Linked DNA regions of Homo sapiens. The protein of the gene in region 1 purifies or fractionates together with the protein of each later gene. This does not show direct contact. Each region holds a gene or a part of one and is shown on either strand. Other genes may lie near its edges.

What was found. The genes of interacting proteins can lie anywhere in the genome.
Region 2: the proteins of KLHL2 (region 1) and USP28 purify together in Homo sapiens (affinity purification with mass spectrometry; 3 studies listed by BioGRID and IntAct, with this or other methods). This does not show direct contact.

The regions. Positions count from the first base shown.
Region 1 is NC_000004.12:165,202,860-165,210,583, reverse strand, and holds the start of KLHL2 (kelch-like protein 2), read right to left. Parts: upstream 3,024-7,724; 5' UTR 2,763-3,023; coding exon of another isoform or gene 2,708-2,762; coding exon 2,682-2,707; intron 566-2,681; exon of another isoform or gene 442-565; coding exon of another isoform or gene 404-441; intron 1-403. UniProt on the Homo sapiens protein: Substrate-specific adapter of a BCR (BTB-CUL3-RBX1) E3 ubiquitin ligase complex that mediates the ubiquitination of target proteins, such as NPTXR, WNK1, WNK3 and WNK4, leading most often to their proteasomal degradation.
Region 2 is NC_000011.10:113,809,558-113,816,581, forward strand, and holds part of USP28 (ubiquitin carboxyl-terminal hydrolase 28), read right to left. Parts: intron 5,826-7,024; coding exon 5,617-5,825; intron 4,399-5,616; coding exon 4,328-4,398; coding exon of another isoform or gene 4,319-4,327; exon of another isoform or gene 4,198-4,318; intron 2,948-4,197; coding exon 2,719-2,947; intron 1-2,718. UniProt on the Homo sapiens protein: Deubiquitinase involved in DNA damage response checkpoint and MYC proto-oncogene stability. Involved in DNA damage induced apoptosis by specifically deubiquitinating proteins of the DNA damage pathway such as CLSPN.

The DNA of each region.
Region 1 (7,724 bases):
CAGTCTCAATATCACCCAGACCCAGAATGCAACAGAATCTAAATGCCACATATACTCAAGTATGCAAAAAACAATAAGCACAAATATATAGTCCAACGACAATTTTTAATTATATGAGAATTAAAAAGGATGAAAGTTGGAGGCAAGGAATAGAAAAAGCACAAAAGATCAAAAGCTAATTTCAAGGAGTCCATCCTGAAGGAACCAGGAATGGTGGGTACAGATGCCTGACCTCCCTCCAAGACAATGTGCCAACAGGCCAGTGGAGAACAAGGTGGGATCTGAGAACAATGTAAATTTGGATGTTAAAAGAGAACACAAGCAAAAGCACCACGCACAGTGCCAGGCAGAGACAGGCATTCAAATATTTGCACATTGAATGAATTAATAAACAGACACTTACACAAAGAGAATCTGGGGCCGTGCTTCCAACCATACCATAAGGCACTTTAAGTCCAGGTCATCTTTCTTTGACTTAAAGCTCAGGCTAAAAATCTAACTTCATGAAAAGCTGAGTCTTCCTAATAGTTTCCACTGGCCTCTGTTCTAGCCCAGCTCTGGCAGTGAGGCCCGGTAAAGTTCCTTCCTAAAGACACTGCCTGCAAGTCTCAAATCCGGCACACGGGATCCATGGTGGAGGGATGTTAATGGGAGTGGAGGCAAACAGGCCAAGGGGTGGCAAGGAAAAAAACTATTTCTGATCCACAGAATGGCAAATAACACCATAACGAGTTCTTGAATTAGGTTTAATCCTGGACAGAACCAAATGAAAATAAAAACCTACTTGTATTTATAATTAAATAGACAGAAACAATGAAAAAGTCTCACCAACTTTAGCCACCCCTGATTGAAAGGAGTTTTAACAATTCTTTCATCCATGCTGGCATTCCAAGTTTTCCATTATATCTCAGCCTCTCATTGTTCCAGCACTATTGATGGAATCTCAATGCCAAAAATGGCGCTGGTCATCAAAATTATGATTAGCTGATCTACCCTAGAGTCAGTTTATCAATGTTTCAATGCATACATCAATTCTATTTTTTATTATTTCAATTTAAATCATCTGTGTCTCTATTCCCTCCCTCCCTCCAGAGGCTGCTTTCCCACACCCTTCTTTTCACCTGCATTCTAAGTATTCCCTTGTTCTTTCCTTTAGCTCCCTCTGTTCCAAAAGTAAAAACGAACTGCAGGAACTTATGTAGAAGGCAGGTTTACTACAGATAGCATACCTACATGTTACATATTATATACCATATGTTGGCTAAATACAGCTAGCATATCCTGCTTTAAGTGCTTCTGAGCCTGGGCAGACCCCCGTGTGCTCATGCTGCTGATGTGAACCATCCACCATCATATTTCCTAGGGGTTCAGGTGCCTTCCTCCAGCCTGCTGAAGAACATGACCAAATCTCAGAGCCCTCAAAGCCACAGCTATCGAGAGGTGACTAAGCCCCTGCTTCTGTCAGCCCAGGAAGGCCAATTCAAGAGTCTTATCTACCCCCTAGATTTCCACGACCTGTTCCACTCAAGCTAAAAATTCTGAAACGCACTTTTAGAAACTGTCGTTCCAGAATCCCATTAGCTCTCCTAAAAGGGCTGAACATCAAAAAATTATTCAACCCAAGCCAAGTATCCTTATTTTGGCTGGAATTCTGCCAAATAACCACAAGAGACTGGTGCGGTACAATCGGCATGGAGTGAAGCTTGCCAAATTTGACCGGAGAACGACAAGCCTCCATGAATAAGCTCTCATGAAAAGGTAAACCATTCTTCAGGATGAGGTTTGTCTGCGATTTGAAAAGTCAGATTCAAAGGACTCTTGTTCCTTCCTAAGAGAAGAGGGAACCAAAATTGAAATTTTCGAAACTCCTGGGTATTTACAGTTCACTTTTACCAAGATGTTTTTAAAACTAAAAACTAAAATTTAAAAAAAAAACCCTTGTTCTGAATAATGCAATAATGTCTTCTACATAATGTTTCAGCTATTATTTCTAGAAAGTAATTCTGTTGCCAGTGATCTTGAATGTACTTGGGTACCAAAGAAAAAAGACACCTGTGCCTGGCAGGTCGATACGCTACTAATTTGCCCGAGGTACGAACGAAACAGAAGATGCTGATTTCTGGATAAAACGTTCTGCAGTGCCAGGTAAAAGAGGTCACATGCCCTGAACGGCCGCCGCTCATTTAGAGTGATGCAAAAGCTCCTCAGATATTAATTTTGTTAGAAATTCGGGGAATCAAGCAACCTAAGATCAATTCATTTAGACAGCGGGTGACTGGTACTTTCCAGTTTCCTTTTTTCAACGGACTCAGTGCATCCTAGCCTGATCTCTTATAAAGGGGTAGGCAAACTCGGCACCAGGTGCCCATGCATTTCAGGGAGGTACACACAGGACCTGCAGGGTCACCCATGCACAGCCCCACCCCGAATCTTCTATCCGCCCGAGATGGGGAAGACCCTTCCCCAGAAATCCTGGGCAGCGTTTTAAGTCACCGCCTGGCCAGGCTGAGTTTCCGTCCGCGTCCGCTCAGGACTGCGGGCACAGCGCCTCGTCACGCCCCGCATCTCCCACCTCCCGCCGGCCCCGGCGGCTGTCCCCAGAGCTGCGCCCGCGGCCGGCGACACGCGCCGCAGCGGCGCGCTTATCCGCAGCGGCGCAGCCCGCCCGCCCGCTCACTCACGCGGGAGGCAGCGGCGGCGTCTCCATTGTGGCTCCTCTCGGGCTTCAGAACGCAGGCACCGACCAACACAGCCAGCACCATTCCAGCCGCGGACGCCGGCACTGCCCGCCCGCCGAGCCGCGTTCCATCCGCCCCGGAGGGGGCGCCGCGCTCTCCTCACCGCGCGCCACCACCTGCGGCGGCGGCCCCCGCGGCCATGGCCCGCTCGGCCGGGCGCGCTCCGTCTACTGCGCGGCTCCCGCGCTCGCCCGAGTGCGGGGCGGCGGCGACGGGACCGGCGGGCGCGCGGGCTCGGCCACTTCCGGGTTCGGCCCCGGCCGGCGCCGACGCTGTGACGGGACTGCGATGCGGCCTCCCGCGGCGGCCGAGTACCCCTCCCTCGGCGCCTCCCCTTCCTCCTGCTGCTGCTGCTGCCGCTGCCGCTGCCGCTTCTGCTTCTGGAGGCGGGCGGGCGGGCGCCAGCCGGGTGCGGGGCGGGCGTGCCCAGACGCTGGCCCGCAGGCCGGGACGCGGGCGGCGGCCGCCCACAGCGGGTCTCTGGATCGCCGGGACGGGGGCGCTGGAAAATGGGAGCGGAGGGGGTTCTCCGTGCAGAAAAAGGGCGGCCGAACGCACGGCGTAATAATGCTCGGTATCCACTTGCTGCTCTGCTTCGCGGGCGTGTACACGTTATTCTTTTCATTTGTGCCTGTACCCAGGGAGATGGGAAGGGTAGGCATAACCAACCAGTGTCCTTACAAAGGGTGGCACTGAGGCAAGAAGAAGTGATTTGCCTGTCCAGTGTCCCAGGCAGGAAGCAGGCTCTCCCTCCTCAGTATGCTAGCCATTCCTTGGACAAGTGAAGTGAGCACCTGCTAAGCAAGGTTTTAGTGCTGCGGCTGTGACAGCAAAACCAAGTCTTTCTGCTTGTGGAGCTGTCCATCTAGACGGGGTGACGGAAACAGTAAGTGATGCTTACCATGAAGAAACATAAATGAGGATGAGGAGAGGGAAAGAGATTTTAGAAAGAGTGGTCAGAGAAGGCCTCTCAAAAGGCATGAGTTAAAGAGATGGAATAACAGGGGCTTTGAGTAATGCAAAGAATGCCTAGGGCAGAGGGAAGAGCAGCGTGGAGACTGCTAAGCAAGATCCTGCCTGCCTTGTTGAGGAACGGGAAGGAGAACAGTGCAGCTGGTGGTTCTCCAAGTATGCCCGCTGGAAGCAGTAGCACCTGCGAACTTGTTAGAGATGCGAATTTTCCAGTCCCACTTTAGCCCTACTGAACCAGAAACTCTGGGGGTGGGGCCCAGCAGCGTGTGCTTTAACAAGCTTTCCAGATGATGCTTGCTGGGGCCGCGAGGGTGGGAGACCCTCTAATGAAGCAGAGTGAGGTCAGGAGGACGGCGGCAGGAATGGGTGTGGCGAGGAGTAATCACAGATCACCCAGGCCTTGCAGGCCGTGATAAAGGACTTGGCTTTTACTGAGATTAGAAGCAATTAGAAAGTGGTGAGTAGCTTGATCTGATCATTAAAAGGATGACTTTTCTGGGATTTGTTTGAAAATATCCCACAAAAAGAAGGACAGAGGTCGGGCGCCGTGGCTCACGCCTGTAATCCCAGCACTTTGGGAGGCCGAGGCGGGCCGATCACCTGAGGTCGGGAGTTCGAGATCCGCCTGACCAACATGGAGAAACCCCGTCTCTACTAAAAATACAAAAAATTAGCCGGGCATGGTGGTGCATGCCTGTAATTCCAGCTACTCGGGAGGCTGAGGCAGGAGAATCGCTTGAACTAGGGAGGCAGAGGTTGCGATGAGCCGAGATCGTGCCATTGCACTCCAGCCCGGTCAACAAGAGCGAAACAAACTCCGTCTCAAAAAAAAAAAAAAAAAGGACAGAGAAGTGAATAGATGAATATTTGCAAAATGTTAATTTTTGAGGCTAAGTGTTGGGTGCATAGGGGTGGTCATCATTTATGTGTGTTTATGTGTATGTTTTAAAAGATAATAATGGGCCGGGCGCGGTGGCTCACGCCTGTAATCCCAGCACTTTTTGGGAGGCCGAGGCGGGCGGATCATCTGAGGTCAGGAGTTCAAGACCAGCCTGTCCAACATGGCGAAATCCCGTCTCTTCTAAAAATAGCCGGGTGTGGTGGTGGGTGCCTGTAATCCCAGCTACTGAGGAGGCTGAGGCAGGAGAATCACTCGAACCCAGGAGGCGGAGGTTGCAGTGAGCCGAGATCGGGCCACTGCACTCCAGCCCAGGCAACAGAGCGAGACTCCGTCTCAAAATTCATAAATAAATAAAAGTTCATAATACAAAGTTTTTTTTAAAAAAAAAGATGACTGATTGCTGTATGGGCAACATGCATAGCGAGGCAAGAGAGCAAGCAAAGAGATTAGCCTAGCTGGGATGAAAGGTAAGGATGGCTTGGATTAGAGTCCGAGTGACTGAGAAAAGTGAACAGGTTCTGAATCTGTTTAGAAGGTAAAGTACTCAGGAACTGCTGACAGATTAGCATATAAAAGAAAGATGATCCTAAGGGTTTTGTTCTGATCTCTGGGGAGAATTGAGTTGCCCTTTACTGGGATTGGGGATATTGAGAAAGAACAAATATTGGAGGGCGGGGTGGAGATTGTATTTGTAAACTCTGATTTAGATATGGTAAGTTTGAGATGTCTGTTAAACATCCATGTGAAGATAGGTGTAGACAATTAGATATATGTATCTGGGGTAGATATAAATTTGGAAGTTGTTAGTATACAGATGGGTATTGAGATCAACTAGATTATGTAGCTAGAGAAAAGAAGTAGACCAAGAAGTAAGCCCTGGGGCACTCCAACATTAAAAAAGAAGAGGAGGAGGACTCAGCAAAGGCGATGGTAAAGGAACAACCAGGGAAGTAGAAGGAGATCCAAGGCAGGTGTCTTGGCAGCCTAGTGAAGGGTTCCAGAAAACAAACAAACAAACAAACAAAAAACCCTTAGTACACTTCAGCATGAGCTAACTTCTCTGTATGATGGTTCTGTTCAGAGCCATAATAAAACTTCCTACTTTACAAGGTTGTTTTAAGAATTAAGTGAAATAATTGATGTAAAGTATATAGCACATAAATGTATAATGGAAGCACTTAATAAATGTTAGTTGCTGCTATTATTTCTGTACACTTCTGTGGCCATCAGTTATACCTTACTCTGCTAGGAACTGGGTTAAGTCCTAGAGCCAGGAGATACTGACTTAGGTTTTACCAAACCTTTGGCCTGACTTCCTTCTGCATGCAAACTCAGTGAGTAGGGCTGACTCATCAGCCATTTCAGGAACTCTTTTGAGGCGGGGGGTGGGAGGTGGACTTTTTCTATTGCTTTTGTATCTTCCCACCCAAAATAGTGTTATGTGTACAAATAAATACTAAAAAATTACGATGTGTCCGTCTGACAGCTAGGCACATAACTTCAAACCATAGCCCCTCTCACATCCTCCTCTGGGTTAGTTTTGTCTATCATAATTCTTTGCTTAAGGGGTTCGACTCATCTAGCATGCTAAATGTCAACCCAAACCTTTCTTTTTTCACAACCACCCCCATTTGTAGGCTTCACAAGTATACTGGGAAAGAGTACATTACCCACATACAATTCAGCCTTACTTGGAGTTAAATGTCACACCAAAACTGGTCCTCAGCCAGATACAGCCTCCACCCTTAACCTGTCTCTCTGCTCACAAGAGAAAGTAAACAAAAATGCTTGACAGGCTGAGCCCAAATCCAACATTACAGTGGGGAAGAAACTTTTTAACACTTCTTCCTTTGACTCTCAGTTTCACTATCTTCTCAAGTGAAGGACACTAAGGATTAGGAGCGGCTACCTAAGACCACCAAGCTCTTCTCTTTTTCATTTCCCTTGACATAAGGTCTGACTGAACATGCAACGGTGTTGACCTCCCCTTGCGTAGGTTATTACCTCCACCCACGTTTTCATCATTCTTTAGCTGAGCCCTTCACACCCTTGGCAGAGGAATGAGATCTTACAAAAGTCCATCTGCCTCCTATGCTGTTAAGATAGAACAATTCCTTAAGCATGTTAGTAACCATAATCTAAAGCTAATGTAAGTAAATGGAATGTATCACTTGTAAAGAAAATGGAACCACTCAGATGAACAAGTCCGTGACAGTGGCTAGTGGCAAAAATCCCTTAGATTGAGCTGAAATCAGATGTTGCAATAGAACTAATGACATGACATGGCAGGCACAAACACATCTCATGGCAAGTATCCGGGAGCTAAGAATTGCTCCTATAAAGAAAAGACTTAACTTCGCTGAAGAATACAAAACCATTAGATGCTATATTTGTAATTCCTTCCAGTGCAAAGATGGCAAGTATGAAAAGATTCACTCATTCAAAATTAGGTACTAAAGAAGATAAAGGCCTTCTAAAAAGTCGCATTTTCTATCCTAAAGACTTAGTTTAAGTTGCTTTACTAATTTTAAATTAGGGATTTTGCTTTTAATATTTTGACTTAGGAGAAACTTAGCAGCATAATATATTAAGAAGCATTTCAAAATGTTCTTTTGATACTTTGCGGTTTAGCAAATGGATTTGTCAATACATTAAGATATGTATTACAAGCTTTATGGTGTCAAATGGGGTGACGTGCGTCTTGTGCTCCAGATCAATAGACAATCCTTAAGTGATGGAGTCCATTGTTTCCATGAATCCAATTTACTCTTCAAATGCTTGCCTCCTTGTTTTTGTAGTCTGTAAGATAGCAACTTTACTTCCGACACAGCATACCTCCCCATTACCCCGTATCTGAGCTTCCTGGAGAAATGAATGCAAATTGTTTGCTGCAAAATTTAATTGAAAATCTGTTGGAATTGGTACAGGAAGTATCCAAAAATAGGTTTCACACTAATGTATATCAGGTAAGCAATTTCTCTGTGTTTTAAGAAAAGGAAATTTACTTAATCTATTTTTACTTATATATAGCTTTATGGTATCTATTTATGTAGTCTGGTGATGTAATCCCTCATAGAATTATCTAGGACTGAACATCTTTCTACACAGTCAGC
Region 2 (7,024 bases), on another chromosome or scaffold:
CATGTAATGAAAAAGGCTCATAAAGTTTTGTGGATTTTGGAGCATTTGGGATTTTGGATATTCACATGTGGGATGCTCAACCTGTATGGACAATGTAAGGGCAACAATTGATAACAGTGCCTGACATTTAGTAGGCACTCATTAAACATCTGCTAAGTGAATGAATAACACAGAGTTAAAGATATGGAAAGTGGGCCGGGTGCAGTGGCTCACGCCTGTAATCCCAGCACTTTGGGAGGCCAAGGCAGGCCAATCACTTGAGGTAGGAGTTCAAGACCAGCCTGGCCAACATGGTGAAACCCTGTCTCTACTAAAAAAAATACAAAAATTAGTCAAGCGTGGTGGCGCATGCCTGTAATCCCAGCTACTTAGAAGGCTGAAGTGGGAGAATCGCTTGAACCTGGGAGGAGGAGGTTGCAGTAAGCTGAGGTTGCGCCACTGCGCTCCAGCCTGGGAGACAGAGTGAGACTCCATCTCAAAAAAAAAAAAAAAAAAAAAAAGATTTGGAAACTGGTCACTGTCAATCACTGGATATACCAATCATTTCAGGGAAATTCAGAAAATCATTAGAGCCAATAAAAATTTCAAGATAAACAGTTTTATCCATTTAACCACTGCATTTGGCGGATAAGAATGTCCATTTCAAAAAGGTTAGAGATGAATTTCAAGACATTTATACCACCAACTTTCATACAATTCAGTACTATGAGAAAGCAATTTGATACAATGGTGAAATGGTCAATAATACCTGGCTTTAATGGCAAGGATATCAATGACATATAAAATTTCATTTTCTAACCCTGTGACCAAAACAAACAAAAAAAGTCTATAGCAGATTAACACATTCACTTACTGGTTGCCATTAATCAGCCTTTTCACTAAGCAAATGACAGTTTCCACTTGTTTGTTTCTATAATAGAAAAATAAACCATGCATGCAATAACAAGGCTCCTATATATTAACAACAGCTAGTACATTCAAGCAGCTATTCATTCCTTCGCAGCATAAATATACAATTGTGAAGATTACTTACTGTTCATTTATCATTCTCTCCATTCCCTAATCCCCAACCACACTAGCAAATCAGAAAGATAACGTGCTGCCTGGACAGAACACCTTACATGTTTGTTTTTTTTGAGACAAAGTCTCACTCTGTTGCCCAGGCTGGGTGCAGTGGCACGATCTCAGCTCACTGCAACCTTTGCCTCCCAGGTTCAAGCAATTCTCCTGCCTCAGCCTCCCAAGTAGGTGGGATTACAGGTGTGTGCCACCATGCCCAGCTAATTTATGTATTTTTAGTAGACACAGGGTTTTACCATGTTGGCCAGGTTGGTCTTCAACTCCTGGCCTCAAGTGATCCGCCCGCCTTGGCCTCCCAAAGTGCTGGGATTACAGGCGTGAACCACCATGCCGGGGCGATGTTTCCTTACTTACGCCACACAGTAAAGTTTGAATACTACAGGCAAAAGCTTTCTACTATCTTACTTATAAAATGTTCATCATAAGACCTCTCATAGAGGATGTGAAAGAAAGAGAGAATAATGTAAATTGAAAACACCACAGAATTTGGAGAATTGTATTTGAATCTTGGGACTGCCATTTATTGACTATGTGATTACTCAACTTTAGAACCCTTTGGAATCTGTTATCCAGCTGGAAAATGAAGATGACAACATTTTCAAACTCTTTCCCTCCTTTTCACAGCTGTAAGTTCTTAGAGAAATAAAAGTTTGAAAGCATGCTTTAAGAAGTAAAGTACCAATATAAATGATAATTATTATTGCTCTCTGTATGAGTAGTAGTATTACAACAACTGTGAAACTATTCAGGCAAATACACCTGTAAAATTTAGTTATTCTGGGCCCCACAACTGTAATCCCAGCACTTTGAGAGGCCGAAGCAGGCAGATCACCTGAGGTGAGGAGTTCAAAAACACCCTGGCCAAGATGGTGAAACACCGTTTCTACTAAAAATACAAAAATCAGCTGGGCATGGTGGTGGGCACCTGTAATTCCAGCTGCTTGCGAGAGTGAGGCAGGAGAATCACTTCAACCTGGCAGGCGGAGGTTGCAGTGAGCTGAGATTGCGCCACTGCACTCCAGCCTGGGCGACAAAGCAAGACTATGTCTCAAAAAAAAAAGAAAGAAAAAATTTAGTTATTCTCCAAAGGGTGCAAAAATATATGTACTATCAGCACCATAAGATGGGGCAAGAAAAAAAAAAGATGTCACTAAAAACAACAACAACTAGAGAATTAGTCTATCTACGAGTAAATTTTAAAAATACGTATATTCCACACAATGAATTACTATATAGTTGTTAAACAGTTAAGATTCTTTTACTAAAAATATAGAGATTGCTAAATACTCGATTAATGAAAAAGGTTCAGAGTTGAATGGAAAAATAATCTACTTGGGGAAAAGGGGGAGGGGAAGATACAGATAAATAGAATCTAGCATATGTATACAATGTGTCTTGAAGACTACATAAGAAACCTAACATTGTGTACTTGTTGGGAGTGGGACCCATGGTCAAGGAAGAAAGTAGTAAAGCAAACTTGTTTTTCCTTTTCATTTCCTTTTATACTGTCTATATTTTTTAAATCTATTATTATATAATAGTAAGTTGTAAATTTTTTAAAAAGCAGTACAAGACTGTTCTTCTCCCTGAGCAGTACAGATTTTCCCCAATCTATAGATTCTGCCAAGATACTTTTACCTGCATTGAAGTAGGGTAGTTTGTCATTAATGTACATCAGACAGTAAGCACTAACATTTCTCAGGCCTCCATAGGAATCTCTTTCAACTTCTTCCCAGGAAGATTCAGTAACAGAGATGTCATTGTACTTGAGCCAGCTCTGTCGGGGTTGATTATAGATATAGGCCCAATAGTGTCCAGCATTTGCTTGTCCTTCATGAACAAGAACTGCATGCAAGCGATAAGGCACCTGTAAGTCAGAATGTACATTCCCCAGTCAGGTGAAGCAAAGTAATCTGATAAAGTTTAGGTTATTAAGAAATTACTGTTTATGATGTGATTAATGTGGGGTTCATATTAAAACATCTTGTTGATTCAAGATGAAGTCCACAAAAACACAGCCTTGGAATTGATCAATTATGTCTCAGTTCCAAAACCTTGAAAACCAGATCGCTGAACTACATGACCTCTCTGAAGACTCTTTCAACTCTAAACTCCTCAGATCTAAAACCAAACATAACCTAAACATATGCATCCTTCTAATTCAAAACTCTGTTTATCTAAAAATAGAATCACCTTGACCACTCATGCTGAAAATGCTTAGCATATTTGGGACCTACAAAGGTTAGCAGCTATTTTGTTCCATGCCTATTTTATTTGGCAACAAAATTTAAGTTAACATATTTAATTCAGCCACATGCTTCTTAGAGTTAAGTGACCACTTATCTATCTGGAGTGAAGACCCTTTTAATGACATACTTGTTTGTTACAACATTTGAAAAGCACATTTGTGTATTTTCAATATAGAGAAAATAGAGCAATGCTTAAATGCTAACTAAATACTAGTAAAAGAGATGAAAGTCAGTCACAGAATCAAATTAAATTTACACTTACTTTGACCTATTTTAATTACTGGTGAAGATTTTTGAATTAACACAAAAGAAAAAATGGGGAAGCCTGCGTTTTACATGGTGCATTCCTGTTAAGCAATGGGACTGTGCCTCAATGCCATTCTAGAAACAGGGCTCCCCTCCTCCAAGCCATTCTGCCCATTCCAGTCATTCATACAGAAGCCACTGAAAGTCCATGCCCCTAACCAGAATAGGTTCAGAGACACTCCTGGAGGCTCTTTACCCCTCCATTCCCAGAATTTATTCTAACAAACACTTCTGTGGATAGTTAAGAATTTCTGTCCTAACTCTCTTTTGGAATTTATTATTACAGAAATAAAGCTTGAACGCATGTTGTTAAATTAAAGATCTTGAAGAATCATGGAACTTTGGGAAAGAAAGGATAACTGTTCTCTAGTTCAGTTTTTCCCACTGCACTACTTAAAGTACCATTTTGTAAGTAATTTTTATTAGTATCTGACAGCAAACCTTTCTACAATATGAAAAAATTCCATGTGGCAGAATTCAAACAAGTATGTGTTAGGTCCTGTTTTTGGTAAAAGGTATATTGCTTTCTTTAGCCTAAAATAAAGAAACAGAACAACATCAATTTATATCTTAAGTTTATTCTTTTATCTTAGGGGGATTCCCATTGGGTTTAAAAGAAAACTATCAAATTTGATTTTTGTATCTACCATTAGCACATGCCTTGACTACTTTCCCATCAATTTTCATTCTACCTGACGAAGGAGAGGATCGCAGTACATCTGTTCAATAGTCTGAGTAGTACTTGCAATACAAGTCTTTAAATCTGTTTGGAAAAAGAAAAACAAAAGCTTCACTAAAATGATCTCATTCTATGTCACACAGGCTACTTTAACTAAGCAAAGAATATTGCTAGGGTCCTAATGATTTCAGCTTCCCTCTATGAACCACGAAGCAATATACAGTTTTAAAGCAGCTAGTACTTTAGGTTATGAAAGCTTTTAGTTCAATATAATTACATTAAGGTTTTAAAACATTATTTTTTATAATTGCCAAAATTTCTTAAAGAGTAAGCTGTTTAGGAAAAGATCTTAATGGGTCACTTGGCTGTAAAATGTATGCCTCAGACAGGATCTGAAATGAGAAAGCAGAACAAAGGGTAAGGCTAAATTTCTCTGAATAGGAATCTGGGAAGAATCTGTATTTTCCATCATCTTTTTGTTCCCTAGACAAAAGGAGACAGGAAGGGGGGTAAGGTTAGTCTGAGCAATATGGGCAATGAGGTCAAAGGGCTTTTTAAGAATACAATGCTGAATAATCCAATTTTACATTGTGCATACTGCTCAAATACCTCATTAACCTTCAGTAAAGCATGCTTCCTATAGAAAAGACTGAAGAGTAGAAGTCCAGAAAAGCTAAATGCTAAATCTGGGTCAACTTAAGCTGGAGTTCAGATAATCTACCACAGAAACAGAAATCAGTTGATGCAGAAAAATCTCAGCAAAGGTGATCATTTCCCAGAAATTTTGAGGGGGAGATCTTTCCATATCTGTATAATGGGGGTGTGTGAGCCAAGTTTACAGGGCACTAAAAGTGCAAAAGAAGTCACAATTACCATGTCAAAATTCAAAAGCATGGGCCAGACGTAGTGGCTCACACCTATAATCCCAGCACTTTGGGAGGCCAAGGCAGGCAGATCAGTTTTGGTCAGGAGTTTAAGACCAGCCTGACCAACATGGTGAAACCCCATCTCTACTAAAAAAAAAAAAAAAATCAGCCAGGTGTGGTGGTACATGCCTATAATCCCAGCTACTTGGGAGGCTGAGCCATGAAAATCGCCTGAACCCGGAAGGCGGAGGTTTCAGTGAGCTGAGATTGCACCACTGCACTCCAGCCTGGGTGATAGAGTGAGACTCCATCTCGGCGGGGGGGAAATTCTGTAGCATGTACAGTAATGTCAGGAAGTGTACCGAGGTGCTTAACCTCCAAATAGTCAAAAAACAGAAAAAGCAAAGAGTAACTGACAAATTTTAAAAGAGCCAACCTTGTATATCTTGTTCAATCTCACTCCTCCATCTCTGAAGACAGGTCTTAACAAAATTTATCTCCTCATCTGTGACTGTTCGTGGAGCTGGCTGTGAAGGCATTTCCATGGAAGACCGAGAAGATGTCAGTGGTTTAGACTTGGGTAAAGAATCTTCAGGAGAAGAAAAGGTACTTTCAACATCCTGAGAAGAGCTTTCTGTACTTGTACTGAGGAAGACAAAAATCATGCTCATATGATAATTTCCAAAAGATACCTTGGCCTAAATTATGTACTTTGGAAAGCAAGATGCTATATGAAAAAGTACAGGTATTCAGTGAGCATTAACTCTATAAAGGTACAGAGCCAACCTTTTTCTCTATCATCTCACGTACCACAACTGGCCTGTGAGGTAGATACTTTTCTATCCCTATTTTACCAACTGTGAGCCTAAGGTTTAAATAAATTAAGCAACATGCCCAAGTTCACCAAGCTGGAAGGTAATGAAAATGAATCCAAAGCCAGATCGGCCAGTCTTTAGCTCATGTTCTCTGATCACTGATTATTCCTTCCCATGAGGATGGGAAGAGAAGGAAAATGGAAAAGAGAAGACTAGGCCTGGAAGAATCAAGGAATCAACTACAGAGTTTACAAGATGAAGCCAACTAAAGTGACACTATCCTTCCTGGAACAAAATACACAGAAGGAAGAAAAAGGAAGCATCAGCTGAACATACAACTCACAGGAATACACACTAGGTGACACCTTGGAGAGTTCTGAGAGAAGGGCTTCAAGTCAAACAATCCTAGCTCTACTACTTTAGCTAAATACCCAAGGAAAAAAGTATTAATATCTCATCTACAAAATATAAATCTTAAGTTCTTTACGTCTTTTCTGTAAACTAACAGAGAATAAAGCATATCAAGTAAATGTTAATTTCTCTATTGTCAGAGTAAAACTGCAGGTCAACAAACCAGCAGGAATATAAAATAAGCTTCTAATTGTAGTTAGGTTTCTCTTTTACACCAAAGCTGAAGAATATAAACTTCCTTTACTTTGACTTAAAAAAAAACTCTCACTCCTGCCGGGTACGGTGGCTCACGCCTGTAATCCCAGCACTTTGGGAGGCTAAGGAGGGCAAATTACCAGGTCAAGAGATCGAGACCACCCTGGCCAACATGGTGAAACCCCATCTCTACTAAAAATACAAAACTCAGCTGGGCATGGTGGCACGCCTGTAGTCCCAGCTACTTGGGAGGCTGAGGCAGGAGAATCGCTTGAACCCAGAAGGCGGAGGTTGCAGTGAGCTGAGATCATGCCACTGTACTCCAGCCTGGCGACAGAGTGAGACTCCATCTCAAAAAAACAAACAAACAAACAAACAAAAAAACCTCACTCCCTCCTCCTCACTCTCTCACATGCACAAAAT